Homo sapiens: one gene and its partner. The protein of the gene in region 1 purifies or fractionates together with the protein of each later gene. This does not show direct contact. Each region holds a gene or a part of one and is shown on either strand. Other genes may lie near its edges.

What was found.
Region 2: the proteins of KLHL33 (region 1) and CCT6B purify together in Homo sapiens (affinity purification with mass spectrometry; 2 studies listed by BioGRID and IntAct, with this or other methods). This does not show direct contact.

The regions. Positions count from the first base shown.
Region 1 is NC_000014.9:20,433,164-20,440,098, forward strand, and holds the start of KLHL33 (kelch-like protein 33), read right to left. Parts: upstream 3,004-6,935; 5' UTR 2,936-3,003; exon of another isoform or gene 2,789-2,935; intron 2,668-2,788; 5' UTR 2,649-2,667; coding exon 1,901-2,648; intron 1-1,900.
Region 2 is NC_000017.11:34,930,441-34,937,467, reverse strand, and holds part of CCT6B (T-complex protein 1 subunit zeta-2), read left to right. Parts: intron 1-4,967; coding exon 4,968-5,101; intron 5,102-6,416; coding exon 6,417-6,519; intron 6,520-7,027. UniProt on the Homo sapiens protein: Component of the chaperonin-containing T-complex (TRiC), a molecular chaperone complex that assists the folding of proteins upon ATP hydrolysis.

The DNA.
Region 1 (6,935 bases):
AAAAATAAAATGAACAGATGAAATAAATATAGTAAAATATTAGTTGTTAAATCTGGGTGATGGGTGTTGTTTGAATGTTCATCTTAATATTCTTGGTTTTGTAAAATGCTTCATAATAAAAAGGTGGGGGGTAATGCTCCTAGAAGTCCTTTTAGGCAGGTCACAGAGGGCCAAGCTGTTTAAGAACTCCATGCTGCTTTGACCAACTGAGGCATGCGTGCCTTTCCCAAAGGGCAGGTGTTGTTCATATGACTTTCCACTGTCTTTTAAGCAGTAGGTAGTGGCCTGGTGCTTCCCAAGTAGTAAACATCAATGACAGATTTCAAATATATATTGTCTGAGAAAATCTGCATTCCTCAAAACAAGCTAAGCCATCTCAGCTCCCATATCATCAATCAACCTATAGTTCAGAGCCAACCCTGAAAGGGCTCACAGCCACTTGTATTCACCTCTTACTCATTACTATACCCTAGGATTTTAAGTGACAGATTCGCAACCATTAAGTAGGAATATTTCCTAGGGAAATAAAAGCAGTGATATGAGTATGCTTAAATTCAAAAGCCTAGTGAGAATTTTATGATTATGAAAAATTTAAATCCCCTCTCCATCTAGTGCTATCATAAATGAAAATAGACTTTTGGAGTGGTTTTCCTTCTAGGAGTCCCAGAAGCACTTCAGTTCCCAGTCACTCCTCTAATGGGCAGTAGCTATGTGACTTTGGACAAGTCTTGGATTCTGATTTCGTCATCATCAAAGTGTAACAGCCCAACTAGATAATCTCTAAACTAATCCCTTGTAATTTTAAACTTTCAATGTGTCCACATGGCCTAGTGGAAGGAGACTGGACTAGTGATGTAGGCTTGTATCCTGGGGTTGTCCCAAGTCAACATCTCCAAATTTAATGTTCCTTATGTGCACCTGTAGATAATGATATTGACCTCACCAGCTTTCAGTAAAATTTAAAAAGAGATGTCATGTGTAAAAATTTCAGGTACCCAGTGCCTCACTAAATGTTAGTAGACTCCGAATAATACTCAACTTATGCAACCCTACTTAGCTTTCCTGGTGATGAGCAGAGTTAACTTCAAAGTGCCATGGCCAGGCCGGGTGCAGTGACTCATGCCTGTAATCCCAGCATGAGACAGGTGGATCACCTGAGGTTAAGAGTTCAAGACAAGCCTGGCCAACCTGGTGAAACCCCATCTCTACTAAAAAAATACCAAAAAAATTAGCCAGGCATGGTGGCAGGTGCCTGTAATCCCAGCTACTCGGGAGGCTGAGGCAGGACAATCACTTGAACCCAGGAGGTGCAGGTTGCAGTGAGCCAAGATTGTGCCACTGCACTCCAGCCTGGGCAACAGAGTGAGATGCTGTCTCAGAAAAAAAAAAAAAAAGTGCCACGGCCTGGTAACCTTAAACAGTACCAGACCTTGCTCATTAGCTGCAGGGCCCATAAGTCAGCCATGGCGTCAAGCACACCAAGGTGAAAGCACACATTGAGTTTTCCACCATGTTCCCCTGGCTTTCCTGTGTCCTGAATGGAGGATGCCAAGAAGGGCCTTTTGTTAATTTCTGCTTGAGTCAATCCACTTTCTGCTTGTTCTACTGCCATGGATTGTACCCTTAGCTCTAGCCAGCTGGCTGGAGATTCCTTGTTACTGGACACAGGAAAAGCCAGACAGAGGGTCAGTTTAAATCTGTCAGAGCGCCTAGAAAACAACTCGACTGCGCATGCCCGGCTCTCCGTGGGGCAGGAGAGGCACCAAAGGCCACCCCAGGGAAATTCTGACAGCAGCAGGGATCAAAACCATCATGGTGGGGATAAAACCACCTGCTGCTTGCACACACCATTCCGTTAGCATATGCACCTGCAGTAATTTAATGCCCCACAGGCCCTCACCCGACAGCTGGCAGCCGCCTGCCTCCAGCTTCAAGTCACACCCGACGCCCTCTCGGTAGAGGAGCTCGATTCCGCGCAGGTTCTCCCTCAGCTCCTCTGCCTGGCTGGGCTTCTTTACATCTTCCCTGGCATTTCCAGCCCTCTCGCATGTCTGCTGGGCAGCAGCCTTCACCCGGGGCGCTCCCAGCGCCTCTGCTGCGGCCAGCACATCCCCCTGCGAGGCGGGGCCCAGCACCCCCTCATAGGCAAAGGTCAGCACGGCCTCCCAGCCCCCTGGGGACACCTCGAGGCTGAAGGGGGGCCGCGGACCTCCGCCGCCCAGCAGCCTGTCTCGGAAGAGGCTGCTGATTGCGGCCAGGATCACCCGATGCACCCCGTATACCCGCCCCGCGACTGACACCTCTTCGTCCAGCAACAGTCTCTGCTCCCGCAGCCGCTGGGCCTCGGCGAAAAACTGGCTCGGATGCTCCTCGCTGCGCAGCCACTCGGGCTCTGCCGCATCTTCATCTTCTTCCTCTTCCTCTTCTTCCTCTAGGGACAAGGCTGGAAAGGGAAGGTTCCTTGGGACCAGGGGCCTGGAACCAGGCTCCTCCAGAGGAAAGGAAGGCAATCTGGGATCCTCGTCGGGGGAGGGAGGCCAGGAAGGGGTTCTCTGGGCGTGCACAAGGAGTCCAAGGCAGTCCCTCTGGACGGGATGAGAGACACTCTCCAGCTCAGGGGGATAATGTGGGGTGTCCGAGACGCTCATGCCGAGGTTTGCTGGATAGCTGCAGGTGAGCAGAGGCAAGACAGCCTGGCGTCAGAGCTGGGCCCAAAGAGGCCAGAGCAACCATGTCTCCAGCCAGTTGAAATGTCAGTCTCTCCCCTGCTCCAACACCCTCCTCCTACCCTCAGCCACATCCCAGCACTGGAGTATCTGGGATATACAGGACAGCTATAGGGTGCACGCGGTGCAGTGAAACATGCAAGAAGCCCTGTAAAGATCCGGTAACCGGGACCACACCCCTCCCCTATTGCCCCCATCCTTTTAGTCACCCTCAGGAGACACCAGCGTTCCGCTTGCCCTCTCACTTAAGCGCCCGCTGTGCTTGGGGCTGCGTGGCAGAGGGAACTTGCCCACATGGCATCCCAGTCAGCCAGTGGCCCCATGGGGCTAATTATAGCCAGTCCTGGCTGGCTAGGCACTTGGCACCTGGTGTCCTAACTCTGACACCCAATCCCCTGGGCTCCCTCCCAGACTGACATCCCCACCCTTCCACCTGTAGGTCATACAGGAGTGTGCTGAGCTAGGCAAATTAGGAAACCAAGGAGAATGAGGGGATCTGGTGGAATGAGCCCAAGGCCAGAAGGGCTGGGCCACTAGAGTGGGCTGGAAGGATCAGGCAAAGAGTCTGGACCAGGCTTTGGCTGTTGACTTTTCTGTGCATGATAAAGCTGGGACCCCGCCGGGCATGGTGGTTCTTGCCTGTAATCCTAGCACTTTGGGAGGCCAAGGTGGGTGAGTCACTGGAGCCCAGGAATTTGAGACCAGCCTGGGTAATATGATGAAACTCCATATTTTTTATATCTACCAAAAATTACAAAAATTAGCTGGACGTGGTGTCTCATGCCTGTAGTCATAGCACTGTGGGAGGCCAAGGCGGATGGATCACTTGAGGCCAGCAGTTTGAGACCAAACTGGGCAACATGGTGAAACCCCATCTCTACAAAAAAATACAAAAATGAGCCAGGCATGGTGGGGCACATCTTTAGTCCCAGCTTCTTAGGAGGCTGAGGTGGGAGGATCACTTGAGCCCAGGAGGCAGAGGTTGCAGTGAGCTGAGGTCGCACCACACACTCCAGCTTGGGTGACAGAGCAAAACCCTGTCTCAAAAAACAAAAAAGCTGGGACCCAGGAGCGAATATAGCCCAGCTTTATTCATGGAGGGCAGAAGAGTGGGGAAAGTGAAGGGCCAGGGGGCAGGGCTACGGACCTAGGTGGCTCACCCCACACAGGGATTACTATCTGTCCAGAGGTGGGGTCCAGGGTAAGAGCCTGAAATCCAACCCTGTGTCTTTGGAAAAGTGTGGGGAATTCTAACTCTCATCTTGGCACTGGGATAAGAACCAGACAGTGGAAGGTGTGCTTGATCTGCATGCTGTGAGGACCAGAGTCCTGGACTAGATGGGCTATGGACATGCAAGTATTCCATTTGAGCCAGACGGTAACAGCCACTCCTTCTCCCTCCAGGACAACACTTCCTTTCTCATCCTGAGGCCAAGTGCTAGACTAAAGCCCCTAAAAGCCAGGCAATCACTTTGTGCCGCAGTTTTGAGTGTCATCTTGCAGAAAGGATTTAGGGAAAGGTGCAGTGACACACTTCCTCTCCCTTCTCTGGGGGAGGTAGGACAGGCCAAGGACTCCTACTTCCTGGCCTATAAAATGTCTGGTCCAGGCTGGATAGGTTGACTCCACAGGCAGACTTAATAAGGGAAGGAGGAACGATTGCTCCTTGTGATTCAGATGAAAGGGCTCATGTGGAGGGCGGGGTAGGGTGGGAAGTGGGCTGACCTGCACAGCACCCCCTCCTACTTTCAGAGTTGTCTCCATTTCCCCATTTGTGGCCTGGGTACCCCTGGCAACTCTGAGTAGCTAGCATTCCCTGGGTGAGCCTAGCCAGCAGGTGCACTCCCCAAAATGGTTCGACTGAGAGGCAGTTTATGGTTATCCTGGCCAGCAAATGGGGAGATAGTGTCCAGGCTCTGCACCCTGTTTCCCAGTTCAGACATTTCGAATGCCTCTCATGTCCTCCCCAGAGCAAGACAATGTGGCCAGCATCTTGGCCCCCAACCAGGAGTTGGAGGAACTGCAATCTGGTGGAGACATACCCCGAGCCAGCCTCTGTTCACCAACTGCTTACAAGGATGAGGACACTGGACCCTGCTACGAGTTCTATGCCAACTCCGTAGTCCTGGGATGGCTCCATACAGCTTGGTAAGACCCAGGCCCCACAGTGAACTCCTGAAGGTAGGATAACATCTGCCTGTGGGCTACCACCACCCTTCATGTAGCTCTGGGACTGCCCTCCAGGTCCATTAGCTGTCCTCCTGGTTGCAGACGCGCTGGCTAGCAAGGGGTCTTGGCATTTCAGTTATGTATGTGCTGTCCCAGCCAAGAAATAGTGCCACGTCCACCTCGAGAGGAAACCCACACCCAGCCACACTCCCAAGATGATCTGGAGAATTCTGGGGCCAAAATCGGCAAGGCCCCAGTGCACTTCAGCTGGGTCATAGGAGTCATGGTAATGGATTGGCGCTCATGGTTCCCTAAGTCTGGGGATCTAGGCAGGCGAGAACTCTTTGCTCCAGGGGAGTTTTTGGGAGGTACCTCTGAAGAAGGGGGCAAGGGGTGGGACTCACACTGGAGACTGCAACCCCTCCCTTACCACCCCGCTCCCCAGATTTGCTGTATGCTCAATATCTGGGGCATCATTCTCTACCTGCAGCTGCCTTGGATCGCTGCTCAGGCAGGCACAGGTATGAGCTCAGAGCTCTCCTGGGCAGTAGGAAGGGATGTGCATGTATGAATAAATTCCCATCCTCACCCCAGGGCTCACATGGCTCATCATCCTGTTCTTGGCCTCAGTCATACTGTCACTGGATTGTCTATCTCAGCCATCTCCAGCAACGGCAAAATCAAGGCTGGTGAGTCTGTAGTGACTCCCGCTCCTCCCTTCATGTTTCCCCATCCCTCATATCTGTTAATGAATTGTATGGTGTTCTTCGATGATCACATTTGGTCATTTCCTCACTCCCCCAACCCCTGCCACACAAACATTTTCATTTCCCCTTTTGGTACTGGTGGTACCTAGATAGCCCTACTGCTTTGGGATGGGGTTTTCTTCCCATGAAGAAATGTGTATCCTCAATCTCATTTCTAGGCTCCTGTATGATTCAACGTGCTTCCGAAAATAGGACTGACATGGGTGTGCAGAATGGGAGCCGCCTGGGCGCAAAGTGCCAGTATGGCTGGGATTTCAGCAGTTGTCGAGAGCAAGGGTCCTGCCTCTGTGGGCTCTCTAATCACTATGAGGTGAGTGAACCAGAGCGGAAGTGTAGAGAGAGAAACCTTGCCCATTGCCTGGCATAGCATAGATGTTTAAGTTGATTAATTTGGGGCAAAACCTTCAAAGATGCAGATAAATTTTAATAAGTCTGGGAAAACTAGGTGAAAATACGGGTGGAATGCATTACTTTGGAAAGGCATTGATTTTTGCCTCTGTCTGCCCTTTTCCTCAGACCATGAACATGGTGTCTGCCTTTAGCCCTCTGATGTCTGCTGGAATCTTGAGAGCCATTCTGTTCTGTACCCTTTCCTGCTTTGTTTCAGCCCCTAATATCTTCCAGGCTAGTTGAGATCTTAGCAAGAGGCTTGCAAGAGAAAGGAAAGAATGTTAGTAGACACGGTCATCCCAAGTGTATAATTTTTGAGGAGGGGCAAAAGACGGCTCAGTTCTCAGCAACTGGGAGTTAGAAGGTAACTTTGGGAGATGGAGATGACTGTGGCTGGCTAATGTTTAAAGAGATAATCCAAGCCCACATAGCAACATTCAAAGTCTGCCTGTAAATCAAGGGAAAGTATGGGGAAGGTGTCACTCTTTTTTTTTTTTTGAGACACAGTCTCACTTTGTCACCCAGGCTGGAGTGCAATGGCATGGTCTCGGCTCACTGCAACCTCCGCCTCCCAGGTTCAAGTGATTCTCTCGCCTCAGCCTCCCAAGTACAGGCACGTGCCACCACATCCAGTTAATTTTTATATTTTTAGTAGAGATGGGGTTTCACTATGTTGGCCAGGTTGTTCTCGAACTCCTGACCTTGTGATTCACCCGCCTTAGCCTTCCAAAGTGCTGGGATTACAGGCGTGAGCCCCCAGGCCTGGCCCGGTGTCACTCATCTATCTACCTCCCCACTCTCAGTTTTTCCCATCCCTCATTCCCAGGGATCTTACCACCCCCTACTCCCTCTACTCCTATCCTTTCTGCCTCTGACCCCTAAA
Region 2 (7,027 bases), on another chromosome or scaffold:
ACCACCGAATTGCCTTTTCTCGTGTATAAAAAATCAGTTTTTCATATTTGTGTGGTTCTATTTCTGTGCTCTTTTTTCTGTCCTACTGATGCATTTGTCTATTTTAATGTTAATATCATACTGTCCTGACGACTGTAGCTTTATAATAAATCTTGAAATCAGTATTGTTAACTCTCATTTTTTTTTTAAGTTATTTTGGTCATTCTAAGTCTTTGGCATTTCCATATGACTTCCATATGAATTTTAGAATCAGCTTGTCAATTTCTACCAAAAAGACTGCTGCTGGGATTTTGATCAGAACTTTTTTTTTTAGAAAGGATCTTACTCTGTCACTCAGGCTGGAGTGCAGTGGTGTGATCATGGCTCACTGCAGACTTGACCTGCTGAGCTCAAGTGACTCTCCCACCTTAGCTTCCCAAGTAGCTGGAACCACAAGCATGCACTACCATGCCTGGTTAATTTTTTTTTATTTTCTGTAGAGACAACGTCTCATTATGTTGTTACCCAGGCTGGTCTCAAACTCCTGGGCTCAAGCGATCCTCCCGCCTTGGCCTCCCAAAGTGCGTGGATTACAGGTGTGAGCCATTACACCCTGCTTGATTGGAATTTTATTAAATCTGTAGACCAATTTGGAGATAGTTGATATTTTAATAATGAGCCTTCTAACTCATGAATATCATCTTATCTATTTGAGTCTTCTTGAATTTATCTCAGCAATATTTCATAGATCTTAGTATATGAGCCTCACATACTTTTTTCCATATTTATCTCTATATATTTTATGTATTTTGTTGCTATTGTATATGCTATTTTTAAAATTTCCATTTCTGATTGTTAGTTGCTAATATATAGAAATATATTTTATTTTTGTACATTGATCTTGAATTCTGCAACCTTGCTAAATCACAATTAGCTTTCTTATAGGCTTCATTGAATTATCTATATAAGTGATTACATTGTCTGCTATACAGTTATACTTTTTGCTCTCCAATATGGATATTTTAAAATTTTCTCCCTTATTTCATGGGCCAGAACCTCCAGTATAATGTTGACTAGAAATAATGAGAATGGACATCCTTTCCTCATCGCTGATCTTAGGGGGAAAGCATTCAATCTTTCTCCATTATGTATGATGTTAGCTATAGGTTTTTATCAGGTTGAGGAAGTTCTCCCTTCTGCACCTAGTTTGCTGACAGTTTTTAATCAAGAATAAATGCCAGGCTGGTCGTGGTGGCTCACACCTGTAATTCCAGCATTTTGGGAGGCTGACGTGCATGGGTCACCTGAGGTCAGGAGTTCAAGACCAGCTTGGCCAACATGGTGAAACTGTCTCTACTAAAAATAAAAAAATTAGCTGGGCATGGTGGCAGGCACCTGCAATCTCAGCTTCTCGTGAGGCTGAGGCAGGAGAATTGCTTGAACCTGGGAGGTGGAGGTTGTAGTGAGCCGAGATCGTGCCACTGGACTTTAGCCTGGGCGACAAGAGTAAAACTTCTTGTTGTTGTTGTTTTTTGTCAAAACACACACACACACACACACACACGAGAATAAATGCCAAATGCTTCTTGTGCATCTATTGAGATGATCATATGATTTTTTTTTTTTTCTTTTGAGATGAAGTCTCACTTCGTTGCCCAGGCTGGAGTGCCATGGCGCAATCCTGGCTCACTGCAACCTCTGCTTCCCAGGTTCAAGCGAATCTCCTACATCAGCCTCCTGAGTAGGTGGGATTACAGGCATGCACCACCATGCCAGGGTAATTTTGGTATGTTTCAGTAGAGATGGAGTTTCACCATGTTGGCCTGGCTGGTCTCGAACTCCTGACCTCAGGTGATCTGCTTGCCTTGGCCTCCCAAAGGTCTGGGATTACAAGCCTGAGCCACTGCACCCAGCCCTCGTTTAGTTTTCTCGTACAGTAAATTACATTGATTGATTCAAATGTCAAACCTTACATTCTTGGGATAAACCATACTTAGTTATAATGCATTTTACTTTTTAAAAAATTAATGGATTACATTTTTTTAAAATTATTTTTTAAATTGTGATAAATATACATAACATAAAATTTACAGTTTAACAATTTTTAAGTGTACAGTTCAGTGTTAGTAAGTGCATTCACAATGTTGTCTAACCATTATCACCACCCATCTCCAGAACTTTTTTTCCTTGCAAAACTGAAACTCTGAACCCATTAAACAATATCTCTCCATTCCCTACCCACCTCCCCAGCCCTGGGTAACCACCATTCTACTTTCTGTCTCTATGAGTTTACTCTATGTATCTCATATAATTGGAATCATACAGTTTTTGTCCTTTGTCTGGCTTATTTCACTTTGCATAGTGTCATCAAGGCTCATTCATGTTGTAGCATGTGCCAGAATTTCCTTCCTTTTTACCATTGAATAATATTCTATTGTATGTATATACCACATTTTATTTGTCTATTATTGGAAACGTGTTGCATTTACCTTTTGGCTATTGTGAATAATGGTACTATGTGTATTCTCCTTTTTATGTATTATTTGATTTAATTGGCTAAAATTTTGTTAAGAATTTTTACATATGTATTCATAAGGGGTATTGGTCTGTGTATATTTTTTCTTGTAATGCTTTTATCTTTTTTGGTGTTAGAACAATGCTGTACTCATAGAGTGAATTGGAAAGTTTTTCTTCTTGTTCAAATTTCTGAAAGTGTAAAGTTGTTGTGGAGAATTGGTATTATTTGTATTATTTCTTTCTTAAATGTTGGTAGACTGTCAATAAAGCCATCTGAGCCTGGAGTTTTCTTTGTGGGAAAGCTTTTAATGACACATTCAATTTTTTTAATAGACGTAGGGCTATAAAGGTTTTGTTTTTTTTGAGTGAGCTTTAGTGGTTTGTAGTCTTTCAAGAATTTGTCCACTTCATCTAAGTTAGGATCATCAACTACTATCTATGAGCTAAATCTGATTTGCTGCCTGTTTTGGTAAATAAAGTTTTGTTGGAATGTGGCCATACTCATTTGTCTATATATTGTCTGTGGCTATTTTTGTGTTACAGTGGCAGAGTTGAATAGTTGGAAAAGAAATGGTATGGCCTGAAAAATATTAACTGGCCTTTTGCAGAAAGTTTACTAACTTCTGATCAACAGTTTCAACTTTATTGTCATAAAGTCGATCATAATATTCATTTGTTATTCTTTTTAATATCTGTAGAATCTGTAGTGATATAAATTTTCTCATTTCTGACATTTGTCATTTGACTAATTTCCACTTTCATCCTAATTATTTCCTTTCTTTTGCTTATATTAGGTTTCATTTGTGCTTCCTTTTTTAGTTTTTTTTTTTTTTTTTTCTTTTTGAAACAGAGTCTCGATCTGTCACCTAGGCTGGAGTGCAGTGGCATGGTCACGGCTCACTGCAGCCTTGACTTCCCAGGCTCAGGCAGTCCTCCCACCTTAGCCTCCTAAGTAGCTGGGATTACAGGTGTGTGCCACCAAACCTGGCTAATTGTTGTGTTTTTTGTAGAGATGGGGTCTCACTGTGTTGCCCAGGCTGGTCTTGAATTTCCGGGCTCAAGTGATCTACCTGCCTTGGCCTCCCAAAGTGCTGGGATTATAGGAGCGAGCCACCAGACCCTGTCCTTTTCTAGTTTCTTAAGGTGGAAGCTGGGGTCATTAGTTTGAGAACTTTCTTCGTTCCTAATATAGGTGTTTCGTGATATAAATTTCTCTTTAAGTACTGCTTTAGGGATGCTAAAATTTTGATATGTTGTGTTTTCACAGAGAATGGGATCAGGGAAGTTTTCAAAGGTTCTAGTAATCTCTTTCTTAAGCTGGGTGGTAGGTACATGGATACATTTGTTTATTTGTGCATTTATTCTTTATATCATACATATAAATATTCTTTTGAGTATATTCTGTATTTAACAAGGAACTTTTAAAAAATGTGAATGGGAGGTAATGATGTAATCATCTGGTGGGTAAACAACTCTTTGAGCGGTTATGTTGTGAAGTGAAGCAGTGAAAGGGGGTAGTAATTTTAAAATGATGTGAGATAAAAGGGGAGATTGTTTTCGTATTGTTTTGTTTTAAAGCAAGTTTTCTGATTTAAATAAGAGTCATAAACTTTATGAAACCATACAAGTAGCAGATATAAAAGTGATATCCTGATGTGAAATTTGATGTGTTTAACCAAAACTCTTGCTTTAGAATAATACCACTTAAATTTTTTCTTAGATAGCAGTTTGAGTTCTGCTGCAGTACAAAAAACAAATACTTCATTGAGTTCCAAGAATTCCCTATCAAAAACTAGACAAATGATCTTGGTCTAAAGAATTTTCATGTCAGATATTGTAATCAGTTACCTGTCAATATAAATTATAAATACCTCTTAAAAGTAGTCATAAGGCCGGGTGTGGTGGCTCACACCTGTAATCCCAGCATTTTGGGAGACGGAGGTGGGTGGATCACTTGAAGTCAGGAGTTCAAGACCAGCCTGGCCAACGTGGTGAAACCCCATCTCTATTAAAAATACAAAAATTAGCTGGGTGTGGTGGTGCACGCCTGTAATTCCAGCTACTTAGAAGGCTGAGGTAGGAGGATCACTTGAACCTGGAAGGCAGAGGTTGGAGTGAGTCAAGATCATGCCACTACAGTACAGCCTGGGTGATGGAGTAAAACTCCATCTCAGAAAAAAAAAGTAGTTATAAAAGAGTAAGATGAAGGTAAAAATAAATTATTCTTGTTTACCAGAGGGTAAGGAGCAAAATAAGCTGTTTGCAGCCAGTTATCTGTACTATGCCTATTTATTTAATGACATATAACTTCAGGATGTTTCATAAGATAACTGAGTAATTACTAAGCTGTGCAATTTATTTGGTTTCTGTAGATAATAGAACATACTTAAATAGTGAATTGCTTTTCTGTCTCTCTCTCTCTTTTGGTCTTTATGGCATGTCTTGCCAATCATATTTTTTCTCTCCAATAGGTTGTATGGTTCCTGGAGCTGGTGCAATTGAAGTGGCAATGGCTGAAGCTCTTGTTACATATAAGAACAGTATAAAAGGAAGAGCTCGTCTTGGAGTCCAAGCTTTTGCTGATGCCTTACTCATTATTCCCAAGGTACAACTACCCTTTCGGCCAAATAACAACTGCTTAGACATAAAGGTGTTTAATTACAAATTGCCCATATTATCTGATAGTTAATGGAGTAGACAGGTATTTATGTGCATTTCCTTACACAGTTTTCTCTTAGATATTTTACAACTAAAGCAGGGAAACTTTTGCGATAACAGCCCAGGATCCTTGCACGATCTCATGAAATAGCCAACTTACCCCCTTGCTTCTTTCTCTGAGTTCCAAAAATTAAAGCAGCTCCAAAAATTTCCTTCAGAAATGACTCATGATTAACTAATCATAATGAAAAAGTTTAGAATTTAAAATTTAGTTAGATTTTGTGGTACATCTTTGTTTTGTTAGTGGTATCCAAATGTAATCAATTTAAATTGTGGAGAGGGAGGGCTTGAGGCTCTTTAGCACTCCTAGATACAACCTTACATTTGTCATCATCATTATAATTCCTAGAAAAAGAGAAAACAGAATTTTTCCATGTGGCAACCTAAGGACAGAAAGCGACCATTCCTTTGTCTTTGCCTTAATTGGTTTCAAACCACCTTAGAAATATAGTAAAACTACTTCAAAGATGCTATTACCATGAATTAAAACATTATTAACAATGTTAGCAAAATCTCTTTGCTAATTTTTATTAAAATTTTTCATAATTTGTGAAATCTTTGTGAATTAGATTTGCTATTTTTTCTTTCCCCAGAGCAGCAAAGTCAGTATGATCCTGCTGCTGACAGAAATTGGTAACCCCAGTACACATTACATTGGTGGTACCTTTTTCCTCATCAGCTGGTGATTTGGGGCCACTTGGAAGTGAGCCTGGTTTGGAGTGCAGGTATCTCCAACCCTGTTACCACAGGTCGTGACTCTCCTCATGAAGATGAGGGGCACAAAGGTGCTGCAAATATTCTGGTTTCCTTAGCAAGTGCCTATGAAGAACTGGAGGGCATGTGGCTAGCGGCACTAGAGGAAACAAGAATATCATTCTACTTCCTTCCATACTAAAAACAAAACAAAACAAAACAAACCTTTTGCAAGGAGGGAAATTAATGTAGTAGGGTAAAAATGGGGGAACTCTGATGTCCTCAGAATTTAGTGTGACGTGCATAGGGGAAATGTTTAAGTAAATATAAAAACTACTAGATAGATGAAATAATAATTTGATTTAGATTAAAAGTGGAATTCTTCAAAAGGAGATGATTGCCATGTTATGGATGTGTTTTTACAAGAGTAAAGAGTATTTTTATATTTGATATATGTGAAGGTATTATGCATATATATATAATATATATTATTATTTTTATTCCTAAAGGTTCTTGCTCAGAATGCTGGTTATGACCCACAGGAAACATTAGTAAAAGTTCAGGCTGAGCATGTCGAGTCAAAACAACTTGTGGGCGTAGATTTGAATACAGGTAAGAAAGTGAAGGAAAATTAGCTGCTTAATAAAGAGGTTATTCTTTAGTTACCCAGATCTTATGGTAAAGGAGTAGAGGTTTGGGTAACTTTAATATTTAAATTTTGGATGCCTTTAGTTTATTTTTGAGCTTCTTAAAAAATGTTCATTCATTTAAGAAATAGTTATTGAGTGCTTGTTTTCCTCTTGGGCTTCACACAGAACAAAACAGACAAAAATATCTGCCCCTGGGAGCTTATGTTGTAGTGGGAGAAGGTAGGCAGTAAATAATAACTTTAATAAATAAACTCCTTCAGCATTTTAGAAAAAGTAATGAATTATATGGAAAAAAGAGTGCTATAATAATGATCATGAATGCTAGTACAGGAGGGTGGAGAGAGAATGACAGCTTAAAGGGTTGGTCAGGGTAGGCATCATCTAGATGTCTGTTGAAAAAAAGTGGAAGGAAGTGAGGAAATTAGCCATGTAGGCAACTGGGGTTAAGTGTTCTAGGGAAAGAGAACAGC